Linked DNA regions of Homo sapiens. The protein of the gene in region 2 interacts with the protein of the main gene of each other region in a biochemical or structural test. Each region holds a gene or a part of one and is shown on either strand. Other genes may lie near its edges.

Region 1 (5,483 bases), on a different chromosome or scaffold from region 2:
GCTTTGTAGACAAGGTTCATTTACATTAATTATCAAAACTTTGTGCTAATGTCCAATTAAAATATCCTGAGTTTTATTATTTAAAACAATCAGACTGAGTTTTTTTCATTAAGAATCAAGATCCAAGACTTGAAGGTTGGGCCTGGAGTTGGGGTAGTCACCCCCTTTAGTTCCTCTCTCATCTCCTCTCTGTCCTCTTTTCTGAACTGTTATGGATGCACTCCTGAGGCCTAGATTTTCATTTTGGATTTCCTCCAGTTACCTGACTGTCCGGTGTCAGATGGCCTGGGAGTTCCAGTGAGTGGAACCTAGCCTGCTGCCTACTCATTTCGTGACCATGGTTGCTTCCCATCTCCTGGATCACTTTCTCTACCATGTGGGGGAGAACTTCCTGGTTCTAGTACTGGAGGAGTGATCAGAGGAGAGCAGGGAAGGGAGATTGGGAGAATGGTTGATAAATGTTGCTGGGGACATAAGTATAGGGATTGGTGGCCAGTCTGGATCCCTGGTACAGAGATTGCTTTGGGCAGCAGTGGTGTGCCACGGGGGCTGGGTGCACACCCCCACACAGCCCGGGGATATCTTCCACAGGCATAGGCAGAGCTCAGGACACCGGGAGTGTGCATGGAGAGGCAGTGATAGGGAGGGGGGGGTCTCCCACAGGTGGGAGGTGCAGTGGGGCATATGTATGATCTCTTTTCAGAGGGGAACAGTGACCCTTGACCTTGACTAAATGGCCATGGGTGGCCTTGTGTGCCCTGAGTAAACAGGAGCTTTGGGCTGGTATTCAGTCCTGGTGTTGGAGTATTGGAAGTCAGGCACATTCCAGAGAACCCACTCCCCTTTGAGAGCGCAGGGTAGCTATATGCAGGGGGGCCGCAGGTGGGGACTCGTTCACTGGTGCCTGTGCAGAGCTCTCAGAGCCTGTGGAGTCAGGAGTGTTTCCCATAAGGCATACTTTCTTCTTGGAGCCTGTGTTCAGTCTTGGGCAGTGAGCATGGCCCAAATGCCCCCCACCCCAGGTTCTCAGCACCTGGTCCCTCAGTCAATCTATCCTTGGCGAGTAATGGCTCCCCAGAATGGCATGGGATGGAAAGACCCCTGTGCTTAGAGTGTTCACATTCCTTGTAGGGCAGGAGGTAGCGTATCTGTGTACAGATGAAAGGGGTTGTGGGGTTTGGAAGTCCCAGTTTCCTCTGGGGTGAGATAGGTCCTGAAGTGTGTGCTTGGATGAATGGATTTGGGGAGGGAGGGATTCTGTGCATGTGGAGGGGGCTGCTACAAGCTACATAGGCAGGAAAGCCAAAGTGGGTGAGGGACTGGGGCAGACTGTCCTGGCTGGGGTGGTGATGGGTGTGGGGGAGTTGTGCAGAATGATGTCACAGGCCCGGGGTGCCAGGTTGGCAGTCTGAGGTCAGAGGCTAAGGGTGAGGGATCCAGGGAGGGATTGCTATGCTGGTGCAGACAAGGTGCTAAGCACCTGGACTCAGGTGCTGGAAGTGGGAGTGGAGGAAAAGGGGTGACCTGACAGGAGACCCTTGATAGCTGGTGGGAGGTGGGAAGAGGGTGTCTCTAGCTCTAGGGCAGTAGCCAGTGTGGATGACCTGAACCTCCTGATTGAGGCTCCCCTAGCCTGTGGAGGCCTTGGAGGCTTTCAGATGATGCCTGTGACGTTTTTGCCTCCCAGGAAGCTGTGCCAATGGCTTTGAGCCAAAGTCCTCCAAAAGTCCTAATAGGATGGGCCAGGTTCTGGTCCTGAGTTAGCCGTGGGCATGCCAGGGTGTGAAGGGCCCTGCACAGGGTACAAATGGTCCCCAGGAGAGAACCTTTCTGCCAGCGTTTCCTCCCGCAGAAGGCCCAGGTGTTTGCCAGTGAGGGAGCCCAGACTTGCCCAACGCTTCTCAGCTTGGGGTGGGTCCAGGTCTGGGTCCTGGGCTGGGAAGAAAGGAAGGAAGTGAGCCCTTGCTTGTGCGCCTCTGCAGCCCAGGTTCCCTGCCTTCACAGCCCCGCTAGAGGTGGGATCACCCCCACTTACTGGTGAGCAAATAGGCTGGGGGGGGTTGGTGTCAGGTTACATGGTTTAGTTGATGGCGCAAGCCCAGGTCCAAAGCCCATGCTCTTCTCAAACAGCCAGAGGTGGGGGCCGGAAGGAGGGATTGGCTGTTGGGGAGTAGTGGGAGCAGGGGCGGTGAGCAGGGGCGGTGGGCAGGGCCAGGTGCGCAGGGGAGAAACAAGGCGCCTTGGAGTTCAGGTAAAGAAAGTTGGGGAGGATGACCACCGGAGCCGGGTAAGGAAGGGAAAGGGAGCTCCGGGCGCGGGGCGAGGCCGGGCGCTGGCAGAAGAACGGGTCGGGCTGGTGAGGGACTCGGGTGCTACCCGGCTCTGGACGGGCGGGAAGAGGCCGGGACGCTGTTCCACCAGCACCTGCGGGTGCGGAGCGCGACCCCCCGCCTCGGCTCCTGGCAACCAGGAAAGTTCCCAGTTCCGGTTCCAAGGAGGCGAGCAGGTGAGGCCGACGGGGCGGGGCGGCTCTGGCTCCCGGGGTTCACTCCTCACCCCTCCGGGCGACCCGCGTTGCCATGGCGACCGCCGCGGTGCAGCCCGCCCCCGCCCTCCCCCGTGCGGGAGGGGTCGGGTCCCCAGCCCTCGGCCGATGCGGAGCCCGCGGGGCTGGAATGCGGGGTCCCGGGCGGTTCGGGGCCGCGCGCCCGGCTCTCCGGGCTGCTTCCGGCCTGGCCCGGGCGGCGGGCGGGGGGAGGGCAGCCCGGCAGGCGAGGGGGAAGGAGCGGAGACGAGCCCGGCCGACGCGGCTTTGTCTCCTTTGTTCCCGGCGGTGGCAGCGCCGCGCGGGAGGGGCGGGCAGCGGGCGCAGTTTTCCGCCCCTCGGTCTCCGGGTAACAGCTGCGGCTCCGCCAGACCCGGGGAGAGGCCGCTGCGCGCGGAGCCCGAGCCCGGAGCGGCCGACGCCCGCCTCGGCGCGCACATCCCGCGGGGCCCGGCCGGGTGGTGAGTGCGGGGCTCGGGGCCAGGGCGGCGAGGAACGGGGCTCCCGAGGTGGAACGGGCCGGGGCCCCGATCCCGCCGGGCAGGGGCGGCCTGGGTGAGTGGTGGGCGGCTTTGGTTTTGAGAGTTGGGACCACACTTCTCCGCGCGAAGGGAAACTCTGGCGACTCCGCCTGGAACGCGATTGGGAGACTGAGGAGGTGGAGCTGCTCCTCCGCGCCCCCTCCTCGCCGTCGCCGCCGGGGACCGGCCGGCCCCTTCCCCGCCCTCCCAGGGCCAGTGATGGGGTCCTCGCCTCGGGGTCTGGGGGTTGGGGAGGGTCAAGGACGAGCCGAGTGGGGAGGTCGGGGCTTCCCCTCAGTAGTAACAGCCCTTTCTGGCTGCTCCCGGTGGGACTGACAAAGGCGGACCTCGAGCCTCCTGACCCCCGGGCGGGTGGGGGGGACCCTCCTCTCCACACACAGACATATTAAGTGGGTGATCGATGAGCGCCTTGGGTCATCGCAGGTGCCTGGTAAATGGTGGATCTCCCCACCCCTCCTCAACACACAGAAAACAGGGCGGGCAGCGGGCACCACTGCACTGTCAATGAATAACTCACCTCTGTAGTGAACCCTGGGAGCTGAGCAGGAGGGTGAAACGGGAAGGCCGGTTTCCCACTAACTGGCAGGCAAGGCAAATGTGGGCTGTCCTATGGCCCCTCTGCAGGTGCGGAATGGCGGGGTTTGTGAGCCCCTTTTGTTGTCGAGGACAGCTCCACGGGGGTCCGGGAGGTGCTTGCTCTACAGACAGAAGTTGGGCAGTCTTGCGCCCCCTGAAAAGGTTCAGAGTAGGGTGGCCCCAGAAGAGACTCCAGGGCATGTGTGGGGGAGCACTGGGCACAGGCAGAGTTAGGCTTTGGCTGTGAGTCTGAGCAGGGCCTCAGATATTGGGAATGGGCAGGAGATCCTGGCTGTGTAAGTTGGGGATGTGAGGTCTGGTTCTAGATCAGCCTTTTCAGTCTGCCCTGGCCTGGTCATTAATAAAAGTGGGGCCAATGTGTTCCCTTTGAGAGACCAAGTGGCTTGGAGGGATTGTGGGCCCCCTATCTCCCCTACTTGTTGGGTTTTCTTGGGTGTGAAATGGGGGTTCGTTCACCATACAGGGAGCATCTGGTCTGTGCTGAAGTCTGTGTAAGTTGCTGGGGCCTCTGAATCAGAAGCCATACTCCCTGCCTTCAAGGAGCTTCAAGTCCAGAGTAGGAGGGTGGAACAGGGAGAAAGGTGACCCTGGTTGGCATCACTAATGCCAGGCACACACTGTTTCATGTTTACTGGTCAGAGCAATCCTGCCTCCCATTGTACAACTAGGAAATCTGAGGCTCGGAAAGCCTGAGGCAGAGCGGCCGTGCCTGTCAGGGTGGTGGCTAGGTGTGTCCATTCTGTCCACCGCATGCAGCGGCCTCCTCAGGAGCCTGGGAGGACAGGGGAGGCTCCCCAGGGAGAGGATGGTTGGTGTAGGAGTTAATGGGATAGCGAGGGAGTGGGCATTCCAGGCAGCGGCAAGAGCCTGTGCAGCGGTTGGAGGAGCCAAGCAGCCTGCAGTTCAGGCTGGCAGGAACGAAGGGCATGTGTGGGGGAGCACTGGCATGGATCGGGTGGGAGAGGTGTGGACTGGAGGGGTAGGCCTTTATCCCTCCCGCTCTGGGGTGCCCCAGAGGCTCTTGGGGGAGGGGTGTACTCAATTCTGCTCAAGGAAAGTCCTGAGAAGTTGGGAGTTGGGAGGCTAGATTGGAGGGGCTGGGAGCTGCTCAGTGGCCTGTGGCAGAGATTAAGTGAAATCCATGTGCCTGAAATGGAGGAGAAAAAGTCACTGCTCTTCTTTCTGTCCTCCTTCCGACACCCATGGTATGTGTGGAGGGGCAAGGGGTGCTAGGTCCTGATTCACAGGGAGACTGCTGGCAGAAGCCTGACCACTTTCCCTGGAGTGGGTCAGCGGCCGACCTCCTCAGTGGCCTGGCCAGGAGCTGTTCTGATCCCGCCCATTTCTTCCTGTTGTCTCCTCATCCAGTGTTTTTTTTTTGTTTTTGTTTTTAACCATTTTTTCATCTCCCAAGGCTCTGTCATGCATCAATGCAGTTTTGATTTCACATATGGGGAGTGGTTTTGTTACTGCCCCTTGAGGGCTGGAGAACTTTGGCACGCAGTAGGCTCTGAGCAAATATTTGTAAGCATGTAGGAGTGAGTATTGGTCTAACTATGGGACCCTGTGCCCAAGGCCCATCCCTGGCATGCGGTGGCAGGAGAATTGAACAGTAGCCCCTTGCAAGAGGTGGCCTCTGCCCATCCTCAGGTGGACTCTGTCTTCCCATGGGAAGAAACTTTCTTTCCTCATCCCTTGGAAACTAGGTGGGGGGCTCTTGGGCAGCCTGGTCTTGCCACAGTCCTGGGATCCTGGCCGGGTTCGAGACTTTCCCTGCTGCCCCCTTCCCCCCGCCCCCT
Region 2 (4,906 bases):
GAACAAGAACCATTGAGATGTGACTACCCTGTAACCCAGTAATGCCACGCTAGAGAATTTTATCCTGCAGAAGCAACTCTGCAGAACAACAAAACAACCTGTGCTCAACTAGAAACTGAAAACTAGTAAAATTTCTCTCAATAGGAAGATGATTCAGTAAATTTTCATGGTGTATTTTTCCAATGGAATGCCACCATTTAAAAAGAGAGATGGGCCAGGCATGGTGGCTCACGCCTGCAATCCCAGCATTTTGGAAGGCCGAGGCAGGAGGACCACGAGATCAGGAGTTTGAGATCAGCCTGACCAACATGGTGAAACCTTGTCTCTACTAAAAATACAAAAATTAGCCGGGTGTGGTGGTGCGCACTGGTAATCCCAGCTACTCAGGAGGCTGAGGCAGGAGAATCACTTGAACCCGGAAGACGGAGGTTTCAGTGAGCTGAGATCATGCCACTGTACCCAAGCCTGGGCGACAGAGCGAGATTCCGTCTCAAAAAAAAAAAAAAAAAGGTAGATATGGAAAAGTATGCAGAGAAATATACAAAAAAACAAAAGAGATGAAATTCTTTTTTTTTTTTTTGAGATGGAGTCTCACTCTGTCACCCAGGCTGGAGTGCAGTGGCGCGATCTCAGCTCACTGCAACCTCTGCCTCCCGGGTTCAAGCAATTCTCCTGCCTCAGCCTCCCTAGTAGCTGGGATTACAGGCGCCCACCACCATACTCAGCTAATTTTTTTTGTAGTTTAGTAGAGACAGGGTTTCACCATGTTGGCCAGGCTGGTTTCAAACTCCTGACCCCAAGCAATCCACCTGCTTTGGCCTCCCAAAGTGCTGGGATTACAGGCGTGAGCCACCACGCCCAGCCCAAGAGATGAAATTCTATATCCCCATGATGACAACATATAGTCTGAGGCTGGAGGCATCCCAGAAAGAAGAGAACTAATTAATATTTGTGGGGACTACCATGGACCAAGCAGGATGCCAGACACTCTATATACAGCAGCTCATTTAATTCTCATGAAAACCTTATAAGGTAGGTAAGCCTTTCTCCCACTTCACAGCTGAAAAAACTGGGGCTCAGAGGGCCCATACGTCTTCCTTAAGTCACAGACCTAGTAAGTTGTAGGCTGGGAATCTCTGTCCATGTCTGTAAGACTCCAGTTCTATGCTAATTTTTCCCCTACCCCATAGAAGAAAGGGACTGTGTTTACTTGAAATTGATCTGGGTTCATGGGTTTGTACAGATGTAGCCCTCTGAGTTTGCTGGACTACTAGTATGTAAGCTGGGCCCTGGGTTGGCAATATGCCAGTAGGTCAGAGTCTGCCAGGAAATCACATTGGCTGGCATGGGTCCCAGCTTAGGAGAGGGCAGTGAAGATCCCTGCTGGGGGGCAGAATTGGGAGCCATCTCCAGGACACTGACATCAAGAGGAGTGCACGTGGAGTCCCCACATACAGGTATCCCCCATGGAGACAGAGAAATCACCCCCTTGAGTTGAGCTTGGGGCAATATGCATGTATTCAGTCCAAGAGAGTTGGAGAGGAAAAGGGCACCACGCTAGCCCCATGTGCAAGGCTCTGATGGTCCAGTTGGGGACGTTATACCTAGGATCACACAGGGCTTCCAATTGGGTTCTGGGAGCCAATGAGCTGCAAAAGTGTTTGAAAACATCCCAGGTGGATGCAGTGATGCTGAGTATAACCAGGCTCGTGTGGAGGCCTCAAGCTGCTGGTGACAATTTAAAGACTATGCAAAAAGATGGACATCCAAGATCTAACTGGTGAGAATGGGCTTTAGGGAAGACAGAAAGGCATCTCTGGAATGAGTCAGCCTGTCAATGACTGCAGCTGTGGGTGGGAGACCATACCTGGACTGGGACAATGCTGGTTGCTTGTGAGAACTTTGGGATGAGTCAGGCTGGGGAGAGAAGGTGTCCAGGGACTGAAGACCAACAAATGAGAAAGGGACAGAACCTCAAAGATGGCTCATAGGTGAGATGGGGCTGAGGGTGGGAACCCTCATAAGGAGTTGTGCCCAGTGTCTTCTTGGTGCAAGGTGGCTTCATAGTGGAGGAGGCCTTCTGCCCACCCAGCACAGGGGGCAACAGGGATGGTCCAACCCCCAGGCTCTGTGGCTGGGTGACATCAGGGCCTGGCTATAAAAGGGTAGCGACCATGGACAGTGCTGACTGCAAGTCCCAGCAGAGTTAGGGTAATAAACTAGGCCAGCTGCAGCAGCCCCTAGGTCTGCCTACAAAAGTTATATTACTGCCCATCCCCTCCTGATACCCACACCAGTGGGGAAGGGCAAGACTTAGAGCAAAAGAGGGATGGGTAAGACATTTTTCCTCCACTAAGGTCGGACCCTTTCCATTGGAACTCAAGTGTCGACGCCAGACAGAAGCTTAACTTTCACCCTGACCCACAGTGCACTTCTCAGGCTCCCAGCCTTCACTTTATATGCTTTGGACTTGAGGGATACTGTCCTGTTCTACTTTTGAATTGCTCACATCTGTTGCTTTGTTCACCTTTCAAGATTCTAGATTCCGTCAGGGTAGAGACTTGTTCTGGAACACTCTTGTACTGCCCAAATGCCAGGAATATTTGGTAAACTGAGTTAGTCTAAAGAATGTGCTATCCTGAGATCTCACTGGTTAGAAAACAGCACATCAGCTGGGAGAGCTACCCCAGATCTTTCTCTTACTAATTTTTTGGAAGTTACAGGAAAATACATGCTCATCAAAAGTGATTTGGAAATATGAAGTGATAGAAAGAGGACCAAAAAAAAAAAAATCCCTCAAGTCCCTCAAAGTTTTCCAATCAAAAGATTTCTTCCTAATGTTAAGACCATGTTCCGGCTGGGTGTGGTGGCTCACACCTGTAATCCCAGCACTTTGGGAGGCCGAGGTGGGTGGCTCATGAGGTCAGGAGTTCAAGACCAGCCTGGCCAAGATGGTGAAACCCCGTCTCTACTAAAAATACAAAAATTAGCCAGGTGTGGTGGCAGGCGCCTATAATCCCAGCTACTCAGGAGCCTGAGGCAGAGAATTGCTTGAACCTGGGAGGTGGAGGTTGCAGTGAGCCAAGATCGCACCACTGCACTCCAGCCTGGCGACAGAGCAAGACTTTGTCTCAAAAAAAAAAAAAAACAAAAGAACCATGTTCCACTTTGCTATATGTTGACAGAGCAGTGAGTATCATGCAGGCTGGTTTGGAGGGAGACCTAACGATCTCCATGTTGATCCTCTAAAGGGCAGTGCTATGGGCCTCTCACAGGCTGGACTTCACTCTCTGGAACTTATTTGTAATATCAGCCTTAGCCACCCCAAGCTTTACGCCTTCTTCTGGTCTCTCTCTTGGACTTTTGCTGTTGTGACTCAGCTGAAATTGCGAGGCTTGCAGAAGCAGACCCACACTCACCTTTGCCACGATTCCCTCTGCATGTGACACAGACCTCTCATCAGCCTGCCCATGGAAAACAGGCCTTCTGTGCCACTGTCTTCCTGGACCTTCCCCAAGTCTCTTGGATCCTTCCAGAAGTTGGGTAACCAGATGTGCAGGCAGTGCCTCAGGACTAGACAAGCCATGGCTTGAATGTAAGGTTCAGAGACCCCTGTGCTGTGCCTGACACAGGGGAGCTATGACTCTGCAGGGGACAAACCCAAAGCCAGTATACTTACACCATTGTCTCTTTTTGGAGGGGATGTATTTAAAACACCCTAAAAGACAACTAGAGAATCTGTTCAAAGAGCTAGAAAATCAGAGTGTTAAGGGGTTGAATTGTATTCCACAAAATTCACGTGCAAGAAGGCAGAGTTTGCCGTGAGCTGTGATCACGCCATTGCACCCCAGCCTGGGCAACAAGAGGGAAACTCCATCTCAAAAAAAAAATAAAAAAAAAAAGGAGACCCACACAGAGACAGACACACTCAGAGGAGAATGTCATGTGAAGACACACACAGAGGGGAGACAGGCTTGTGACAATGGAGGCAGGGATTGGAGTTACACAGCTGCAAGCCAAGAAATGCCAAGGATTGCTAGCAACCGCTAGTAGCTCGGAGAGAGACTATGGCCTCCTGTCAGCACCTTGATTTAGGACTTCTGGCCTCCTGAACTGTGAAAGCATTCATTTCTGTTGTTTGAGCCATCAGTTTGCAGTAATTTGTCAAGACAGCCCTAGCAAACCGACACACAGAGTGAATACAGTGTGTCCCACAGATGGCGGGGTATGGAAGCGAAGTGTGGAACCAAAAGTATATGGCCGTAAACTTTATGACTAGGGTCATCCTATGTCAGAAGTCTATAAAAATTATTCAAGTAAAAACTGTACAGATATTTCATACATTTCCAAAATTTACCTTGAGACACTCTGGTTAAAAAAAAAATAGTAGAGGTGTCTTAATTTTCCCAAATCAGCCAGGCGTGGTGGCTCACGCCTGTATTCCCACAACTTGGGGAGGCCAAGGTGGGTGAATCACCTGAGGTCAGGAGTTTGAGACCAGTCTGGCCAACATGGTGAAATCCCCTCTCTACTAAAAATACACAAAATTAGCCAGGCATGGTGGCATGTGCCTGTAGTCCCAGCTACTCAGGAGGCTAAAGCAGAAGAATCGCTTGAACCCAGGAGGCAGAGGTTGCAATGAACCGAGATCATGCCACTGTACTCCAGCCTGGGCAACAAGAGCAGAAACTCTATCTCAAAAAAAAAAAAAAAAAAATTCTCAAATCGAGATTAGGCAATGACAGATTGACATTAGGGGGCTTTCTCAGGGATGACTGTTTCCTACCTCTCCTTCAGAGTCTAAATGTCTGTAGGCTCACCATCATGTGCCCACCCCAACCCAAAACCCTCAGAAGGAAAATGCCAGTCTCATACTAAAAGTGACCCGGCTGTTCAGCAGAAATAA
Region 3 (4,906 bases), on a different chromosome or scaffold from region 2:
ATTTTAAAATTTGGACTTATGATTTTATTTCATTTTGATAATATACTTTGCATTGAGCTAAATGTTCTAAGGGATATAAAGATGAGTAGCATATAAATCTGGCTCTCAAAGGGTGGTTGTATAATCTGTTAAATAGGATTTGACCTCTATATGTTTATTTTCTTTCTCAGCTTTTGTATTTTATGAATTAGTATTGTGAGCTTTTGTTGTAGCCTAAGCAGATGACTTTTCCTGAAGAATTACTGGAAGTGAGTAGTAGCTATATAAAATAGTGATAGAGCTACGTTTTCCACCTTCCTTTTATAAATAAAAGACTTAATGTAGTGATTAGTCATGGATTGGATCTTGGAAATTATCTTAACCCTTCTTTCAACAGATAAGGAGGAGGCCTAACACAGGGTTGCAAGCTCAAAATTCAACAGGGACCTTATGAGTGAGGAGGTCCCAGTTTAACAGTGTAAACCTAGTAATAAATAGCAGCTGTTAGCTGGCCTGAGTTTTAGGGGAGACTGTAGGGATTATGGAAAGTGAGCAGATTAAAGTCCTTCTGCATTTGAAGGAAGAAGCTCCCACGCAGCTATATCCTGTTCTTACTGTGCAGGAATATGGACCGGTTTTGCCTTATCTTTTTATTTTTCAAGAGAATCTAGAATTATAAATAAAGTATAAATGCATATAAGCAAATATGTGAAATCCTCCAATTTTAGTATATTAGTAATAGCTCAGTTTTTACACAAACACTGCATAGGCCAAATAAATACTTTTTGTTTGGGCAGATTGGTTATGCATGTGTGAAGCAAAATGAAAAAAGAGAAGTGATTTGGTTAATTTTGGGGGCTCTGCCTTACTTTTAAGCCTTAGACACATTGTAAACGTTTTAGGATTGGTTATTTCATAGATTTGTTGTACCTCTTCCAAGTATAAGTTCTTTTTTCCTGAAGCCTACCCAAATACTTTTCTCATCAGATTTCCCCTAATTTGAATTTTTAATGGAGACGAAGGGAAATTATAATGGGGCTAGTAGCTCAAAAATTTTTAACGTAATTTGCTTTTTCAAATTTTCAAACTGCTATAATAGGTGAAAAAAATATAGCAGTAATTTTATTGATGTGACCAAAATTTATTTAAATTATGTATATTATTAAAACTATATTTTAAAACAATGGTTAAATTGCAGTAATAAAGCTCTAAGTATCATCAATGCCTCTTCTAATATCACTGTCCGATTAGATCTTGAACAGTTTTTAATTATATTTTAGATTGTTAGAAACGGATAGTAAGTCTTTAAGATCTGTAAATGGGTCAAGAAGAAACAGTGGCTCTTCTCTTGTGTCGAGTTCATCAGCCTCTAGCAACCTCAGTCACCTTGAAGAAGATTCTTGGATTCTTTGGGGAAGAATTGTTAATGAATGGGAAGATGTACGCAAAAAGAAGGAAAAGCAAGTTAAGGTATTCATGTTCTTTGTTGAAGTTCTTATTCTTATTCCATAGTGCGTCAGACATAACTTAATAGAGGATTGGGAAAAAAACCCCAAATACAACTTCCAAGCTATATATTAAAGAGGTCTGCTTTATTTGTTTTCACTTACTTGTACCCCTAAAAGTTTTAATTTGTAGACATCAGTTGTTACAGAGGTCCTGATCATATAGAAATATATAACTGAAAATTATTTTATTTACTTATTATTATTTTATAAAGACTCACTTTGTTGCTCAGGCTGGAGTGCAGTGATGCAGTCATAGCTCACTATAACCTCGAATTTCTGGGCTTAAGCTGTTCTCCTGCCTCAGGCTCCTGAGTAGCTATGATTACAGGTGTGTGTCACCACACCTCGCTAATTTTTTATTTTCCTTTTTGTAGAGATAGGGTCTTGCTTTGTTGCCCAGGCTGGTCTCAAACTCCTGGCCTCAAGCAGTCTTCCTACCTCCGCCTCTCCAAGTGTTGTGAGCTACTACACCCGGCCCGAAAATTGTTTTAGAAATTAAATTCTCTCATTTTATTGATTCAGAAATGAAGTTGTGATATCCTGCATTCTTGAATAACAGTATTTTCCTTTTTTTTTTTTTTTTTGCCTTCAACAGCCCTTTGAATGTTGGGTACTGTACCATCATTCACAGCTCTGCAGGTTTCAAGTCCATTACCTTAAGAGGTCACACACTGAGGTGAAATGATCATTATTAATCCCCTGACCAGAAGAGGATACACCCAGGGCCCAATCTTACCCTTGACTTACAGGGTTCCCTAGTCTTATTATAAAGCTAGCTTTGTGAGTTACAAATTTAATGATGTCTTCTACTTCATTCCAACCCCCTAATAAGTCTTCCTTGGCTTGCAAGATAGGACACTTAAATAATTCATTTTTGTAATTTTATTTTATTTTTAGGAACTTGTTCATAAAGGGATACCCCATCACTTTAGAGCAATAGTTTGGCAACTTTTATGCAGTGCACAAAGTATGCCAATTAAGGATCAGTATTCAGAACTCCTGAAAATGACCTCGCCTTGTGAAAAATTGATCCGAAGGGACATTGCTAGAACTTACCCTGAACACAACTTTTTTAAGGAAAAAGATAGCCTTGGACAGGAGGTTTTATTTAATGTAATGAAGGTAAGTTTTATTTATTCATTTTTTGAAATGAAATGAATTCCTGGAAGGTTGAAATTATACATTTTTCATGATGAAGCATGACCTCCCACCACAATAATCAGTTGCTTTGGCAGTGAAATTGGTTTTAGCATCATTTTTGCCTTAATTCTTATGCTACATTACTATCTAGTATAGAGAACTTGTTAGAACATTTACTACGTTATTTAGCATTAGTTGATGGAAATGGAATAGCTTAAAAGTCACATATCATAGAGGGATCCTCATGAAAAGGAATAATTCACCATCTGTGAAGTTCAAAACCTGGGATGTGGGTTTCTCCTATCATATCTGTGTTCCTACAGTGAGCAAATTTTTCTGCTTTCTATGGCCAGCACTGTTAAGAGCACTTAGCCCTTGAAAGGTGTACCATTGTCATTTTTTCTTCAATATTGCCATTTCCCTTCCCACAGTTACTTTTTCTTTTAGCTACTTCTTTGAAATACTGACTTCTTGTTAAATCATTTCAATTTCGCCAATCCTTTGCCTTAAACCTAGTCTAGTTTTATATACATCAATATAAATTTTACTTGAATTTTTTTTTTTTTTTTTGAGATGGAGTTGCACTCTTTTTGCCCAGGCTGGAGTGCAGCGGTGTGATCTCAGCTCACTGCAACCTCCACCTCCCAGGTTCAAGCAATTCTCCTGCCTCAGCCTCCCTAGTAGCTGGGATTACATGCGCCCGCCACTACGCCCAGCTAATTTTTGTATTTTTAGTAGAGACAGGGTTTCACTATGTTGGCCAGGCTGATCTCGAACTCCTGGCCTCAGGTGATCCGCCTGCCTCTGCCTCCCAAAGTGCTGGGATTATAGGCATGAGCCACTGTGCCCAGCTCAATTTTACTTGATTTTTAAGCCCTGTTACAAATTCCTTTATTTTATTTTATTTTATTTTATTTTATTTTATTTTATTTTATGTCTTTAGAGCTAGCAAGTTTGGATTGGGAAATTGTCAAAATAAAATTTCATGTAATAAAACATTTGCTTTTTAAATATGTATAGGATAACATCTATAACAAGCAAGCAAGAGCTTTTCTCAAAAATAAATGTTTTTTAATCTGTCTGTCTTGCCAATTTTAGGTTTTTTGGAGAAGGAAGGTATAACTTACCATGTATTTTGAACAACTTTTTTTTACTTTTTAGGCTTACTCTTTAGTAGATCGTGAGGTTGGTTACTGTCAAGGAAGTGCTTTTATAGTTGGATTGTTGCTTATGCAGGTAAGTTAATATAAGTATTAAATGTCCAATGAAATTTTTTATTAAGTTGGATTGGAGAGTTTAAAAAGCATCTTTGTTTTATTAAATGTAAGTGGATATGGGTATTTTTTCCTAGGCATAATTTGAATACAAATATTTAGTTTGCATTTTAAAAGATTAAACATGTTAAAATAACATAGTAATATCTTACCACCAAATGAAATTTCAACTTCATGATAGATACATTTTTACTGTAATATTCTACTAAAGCTTGAATCTACAGTAGTTTAAAATCTTATTTGTTAACATTTAATGAAGAGTAATCTTTTTCTAACCAAGGAGGAAATAATTAAAGTGTTGGTAAGAAAATCTTATTTATATTGTACAACATCTTTAGAGATTTATAGAGAATTTAATTTATCATGGAGCTAAAAGCTTGTTATGCATACCTCACTGCATGCCCTAAAATAGTGGTACTCAGCCACTTTTACCCCCTAGGGATATAACTTTGTTATTGAGTGTGCAGTGGGTTTGGGTGGAATGTTTTCAGAATTCGGGGGTAGGATAATCATAGCTTTGAAGGGAAATGGCATATAGTATTATCTCTTCAGCTTTGTTGAAATGTTAAGTCCATCTTACTCTTTATTTAGTCTCAGATTTTAGTCCTGAAAAGGAATCATGGAGATACTTGGTTTGAGTCATATAGGGTGGTTTTGCAACTCAGTTCTGCACATGCTGTATGAATTTAGGCTAGATTATTTAACCTCTCTCTGAGCCTTAGTAAGATAATACTATCTACTTTCAGATTAGTTGTGAGGGTTATTTGAGGTAATGTATGTAGAAGCCTAGCATGGTGTTTGGCTCATAGGAGATAGGCAGTGAAAGTTCAGTGGCTTACCCAAGATCACACATCCTGGTAGATAAAAGCAAAGTAGGAATCAGAAACCGTTTCCTGATGCTTTGCTTCAGCTTCCCAACTGCTTTGAGTTTTAAAGCTCTTGTTGCTGTCAGGAGTATACACTTTTCTAAGTAGAAGAGACCTGATGTCAGAGACACTGATTTAT
Region 4 (4,906 bases), on a different chromosome or scaffold from region 2:
AAGAAATGAAAGTTAAAACCATAGTGATACAGCTCTGCACACCTGTATTGGAATGGGTTAAATGAAACAACTCCAACAATACCAAATGTTGGTGTGAAGTAACTGGACTTATAAAATTTGGGGGAGGTGTAAAATTGTCCAACCACTTTGGAAAAGATGTTGGCAATTTAGTATAAATTTAAACAGACACTGTGCAATATAATAATTCTGCTCCTCAGTACTTACCCAAGAAAAATGTAAACGTTTGTCTACATGAAGATTTATACAAAAATGTTCATGACAGCCTTATTCATAAGAGCCCCAAACTGGAAAAAACCAAAACATTATCAACAGATGAATACATAAATGAGATGTAGTATACACCTATACTACAATTCTCTCTCCCTCTCTCTCTTCCTCTCTCTGTCTTATATGCACACACACATAAAATATTACTCTATATTTTAAAAGGAACATATCACAAATACATGCAATAACACAAATCTCAAAAACATATTTTTTGGAATAGATTGCCCCAAAATACCTTAAATGTTTGGAAGTATTCACCAGTATAGCAATCTAGACTTACGGTTTTCTCTCTGTGAGAATTTTTAGTAATGGATTGAATTTATTTAATAGATATTACTATTCAGATCTTATCTTTCTTCTCAACTTTCCTAAATTTAAATTTGAAAATGCTTGCCCACTTTGCAAATGATCAAATATATTGTATTCTTCTTCTTTTTTGGTAATTGTTTCTTTAACATCTAAACATAATTGTAGACTATGCAGCGATTTCTTTTTTCTGATTCCTAAAATCAGTAATTTATGGTTCCATTTTTGTCTCGATCAACCATTCTAGAAATTTTCCAATTGTATTACTCAAATAAAGTAAATTAACTTTTGGGTATGTTAATTTTATGAGTGATATATTTATTTCTACTTTAGTTGTTTCTAAAAACTTTATTATATTCTTTACACATTTCTTTAGTATGATTTCCTATTTTTTTCCCTAACCTCTTGAAGTGGAAGCTTGAATCAACAATTCAACTTTTATTCTTTTCTAATGTGTACATATAAGTTATAAATTTCCATCTGAACCCCACTTTAGCTGGATCTCGCAAGGTTTGGTATACAAAATTTATGATATTATTAAGTTTAAAATATTTTATAATTTTTGTTTCAGTTTTTTCATCGTTGCAAGGATTATACAGAAGTGAATTGTTATCATTACAGATGTGGGGCCTTTTTTTTTTTTTAGCTATTTCTTTCAAAAATACATCTATTGTAATTTCATTGTAATCAATGAATACAATCTGAATTATGTAAATCATTGCAAATTACTGAGACTTTATAGTACACCATATGGTCAATTTTTGTAAATATTTCAGTACATCTTAAAGAATATGTTGTCTGTCTTTGGAGGGTCATGTGATCTATATATTTCAATTATATCTAATGCATTAATTATGTTGTTTAGATTTTTCTTGTGCATAGTGTTTTTTTTCTCTTGTTTACTATTCCAATAGCTATTTAGTGAGGTATGTCAATGTCTCCCACTAAAATTTCTGATTTTTATACTTCTTCCTTTAATTGTTCAATCCTTGGATTTAACCCCTTATCAATTACGATTTAGTAATGTATCTTGCCTAAACTTTCCTTTTTCTGATAGTATATCATCACTGATAGTGTTTGCAAATCACATTATTCTCCATTCTCTTCCATTTGATCTTTAGGTATCTTTACATTAAAATGTATTTTTAAGAAGCTACAAATAAAATACAAATTTAAAAATAGTATCACGTAAAATAGCAATAAGCTAGCATCAAATACCTAGGAATAAAATTAACAAAATACATGCAATGTTTATAGAATGAAACTTCCAAATATTTCTGAGAGAAATTAAAGAAACTGGATCCCTCCCTTACACCTTATACAAAAATTAATTCAAGATGGATTAAAGACTTGAATGTTAGACATAAAACCATAAAAACCCTAGAAGAAAACCTAGGCATTACCATTCAGGACATAGGCATGGGCAAGGACTTCATGCCTAAAACACCAAAAGCAATGACAACAAAAGACAAAATTGACAAATGGGATCTAATTAAACTAAAGAGCTTCTGCACAGCAAAAGAAACTACCATCAGAGTGAACAGGCAACCTACAACATGGGAGAAAATTTTCGCAACCTACTCATCTGACAAAGGGCTAATATCCAGAATCTACAATGAACTCAAAACAAATTTACAAGAAAAAAACAAACAACCCCATCAAACAGTGGGTGAAGGACATGAACAGACACTTCTCAAAAGAAGACATTTATGCAGCCAAAAAACACATGAAAAAATGCTCACCATCACTGGCCATCAGAGAAATGCAAATCAAAACCACAATGAGATACCATCTCACACCAGTTAGAATGGCAATCATTAAAAAGTCAGGAAACAACAGGTGCTGGAGAGGATGTGGAGAAATAGGAACACTTTTACACTGTTGGTGGGACTGTAAACTAGTTCAACCCTTGTGGAAGTCAGTGTGGCCATTCCTCAGGGATCTAGAACTAGAAATACCATTTGACCCAGCCATCCCATTACTGGGTATATACCCAAAGACTATAAATCATGCTGCTATAAAGACACATGCACACGTATGTTTATTGCGGCACTATTCACAATAGCAAAGACTTGCAACCAGTCCAAATGTCCAACAATGATAGACTGGATTAAGAAAATGTGGCACATATACACCATGGAATACTATGCAGCCATAAAAAATGATGAGTTCATATCCTTTGTAGGGACATGGATGAAATTGGAAATCATCATTCTTAGTAAACTATCGCAAGAACAAAAAACCAAACACCGCATATTCTCACTCATAGGTGGGAATTGAACAATGAGAACACATGGACACAGGAAAGGGAACATCACACTTTGGAGACTGTAGTGGGGTGGGGGGAGGGGGGAGGGATAGCATTAGGAGATATACCTAATGCTAAATGACGAGTTAATGGGTCCAGCACACCAGCATGGCACATGTATACATATGTAACTAACCTGCACATTGTGCACATGTACCCTAAAACTTAAAGTATAATACTAATAATTTAAAAAAAAGAAATTCTTAATAAGGTTAAGAAGTTTTCCTATTCATAATTTAATGACTCAGTGTTGCAAAGATATTAATTCTCTCAAACTTATGGATAGACTCAACATAATACAGTTCCTGAACAGAACATCTAAACAGATCATCAATATGTTAAGACACCAACAAAGCACTGAAGGGATCATTGGCTACTTCTGGTAATCTCTTTAGATTTATGAAAAAAATTCAATTTAGCCCGATATGGGAGTAGAATTAAGATACTGGATCTCAATATGTTATATTGTACTCCAGAAACTCAAGGTGGTTATCATAAATGTGCTAGCCTTCACACTCCATACCATTTTCTCCTTGAATCTGTCTTCACTTAACATCCTTACATAGGATCAGTAATTGCCTTCCTTTCTAGGATGTAACTTGTTTCAAATCAGGGAACTTTTTTTGTCATAGCCAATGTTTCAGTTGCTCAATATAGATGTGCCATAGACATAGTTCATCTTTATTTTATACAGGCAGGTTGCACAGGCTCTCACAACATGCTCATGAGTAAGACCGAGTAACATGGCTCTGTTGCTTTACAGCCAGATGTAGGACATATTTAAACACAAACAGTGTTTATCAATTCAGGGATTTCCCAATATGGTTAATCATCAGAGTCACCTAGGGAGATCATAGTATTCATAAAAATTGATGAATGTAAAAATGTAAATATGATTATAATTAAAAATAAAAGTTCCTGAATCACCTCCCTATGTGCTTAGTCCTGTTCCCTAGAGACATCTTAGTCTTTGTAGAATAGTTCCAGTAAACATTTTGTTTCTAGTTCTTCTGAAGCTCTTCCCACCCTGCTTCTCCATCTCTCTCTCCCTCTCTCCATCCTTTCCTCATTCTCTCTCCATCTCTCTCTCCCTCTCTCCATCCTTTCCTCGTTCTCTCTCCATCTCTCTCTCCCTCTCCATCCTTTCCTCGTTCTCTCTCCATCTCTCTCTCCCTCTCTCCATCCTTTCCTTGTTCTCTCTCCATCTCTCTCTCCCTCTCTCCATCCTTTCCTCATTCTCTCTCTAGCTCTTTCTTTTGTTATTTTTTAATTTTTATTTTAAGTTCTGGGATACATGTGCAGAATGTGCAGGTTTGTTACATAGATATACATGTGCCATGGTGGTTTGCTGCACCTATTCTAGCTCGCTCTTTTATTCAGCCATCATTACTGAGAGACAAGGGGTCGAATACTGACCCGAAGCCAAAATGCATGAAAAGTAAAATGACACATTCCCTGCTTTAATAGAACTCTCAATCTAATTCTATCCTGTTAACAATGTTTTCAATAATTTAGTTAAGATTAAAATGGAAATGAGTGATCATTTAATGTACAGATAAAATAAAACTGGAAGAAATAGCCAATACAATGAATACGTGAATTGATTGTTTATACAACCCAACAGGACTGTGTTAAGAAGAAGAGAAATACTGTTGTAGAGACTTGATACTAAGTCTAATATTCACCATAATAAGGGATGATGTGTCAATTATTTCAATAACTGAAGTAAAGTTAGAGAGGCATGCAACTTTTGAATGGTTTCCCGAACGAATTCAGAGCTATTCTGTTATATATACATTTAAAAATGTATTTTCTATTATTTATGTGTCCTCATGTGATCACTATAGGATCAATATGAGGCTCTGAAAAATACTTTACATGTACACAAAATATAGTCTTCTGTTAATACAAGAACAAATAAAAAATATAGGGCTCCTGGTCTATTATGTTTACTCCTGCGTGTTAAAAATTGGGTATATATGACAGTAGCAATAAAAGGTCTGA

The links. Proteins that work in one complex are often made in the same cells at the same time.
Region 1: the proteins of LDB3 (region 2) and PLXNB1 interact in a test that uses a peptide from one of them, tested with the Homo sapiens proteins (one large-scale study listed by IntAct).
Region 3: the proteins of LDB3 (region 2) and EVI5 interact in a test that uses a peptide from one of them, tested with the Homo sapiens proteins (one large-scale study listed by IntAct).
Region 4: the proteins of LDB3 (region 2) and OR8G1 interact in a test that uses a peptide from one of them, tested with the Homo sapiens proteins (one large-scale study listed by IntAct).

What each region holds. Positions count from the first base shown.
Region 1 is NC_000003.12:48,426,776-48,432,258, reverse strand, and holds the start of PLXNB1 (plexin-B1 precursor), read left to right. Parts: upstream 1-2,172; 5' UTR 2,173-2,251; exon of another isoform or gene 2,252-2,506; intron 2,507-2,914; exon of another isoform or gene 2,915-5,483. UniProt on the Homo sapiens protein: Receptor for SEMA4D. Plays a role in GABAergic synapse development. Mediates SEMA4A- and SEMA4D-dependent inhibitory synapse development. Plays a role in RHOA activation and subsequent changes of the actin cytoskeleton.
Region 2 is NC_000010.11:86,726,829-86,731,734, reverse strand, and holds part of LDB3 (LIM domain-binding protein 3), read right to left. Parts: intron 1-4,906. UniProt on the Homo sapiens protein: May function as an adapter in striated muscle to couple protein kinase C-mediated signaling via its LIM domains to the cytoskeleton.
Region 3 is NC_000001.11:92,701,098-92,706,003, reverse strand, and holds part of EVI5 (ecotropic viral integration site 5 protein homolog), read left to right. Parts: intron 1-1,259; coding exon 1,260-1,449; intron 1,450-2,082; coding exon of another isoform or gene 2,083-2,163; intron 2,164-2,171; exon of another isoform or gene 2,172-2,267; intron 2,268-2,384; coding exon 2,385-2,609; intron 2,610-3,788; coding exon 3,789-3,863; intron 3,864-4,906. UniProt on the Homo sapiens protein: Functions as a regulator of cell cycle progression by stabilizing the FBXO5 protein and promoting cyclin-A accumulation during interphase. May play a role in cytokinesis.
Region 4 is NC_000011.10:124,243,200-124,248,105, reverse strand, and holds part of OR8G1 (olfactory receptor 8G1), read right to left. Parts: intron 306-4,906; 5' UTR 226-305; intron 1-225. UniProt on the Homo sapiens protein: Odorant receptor.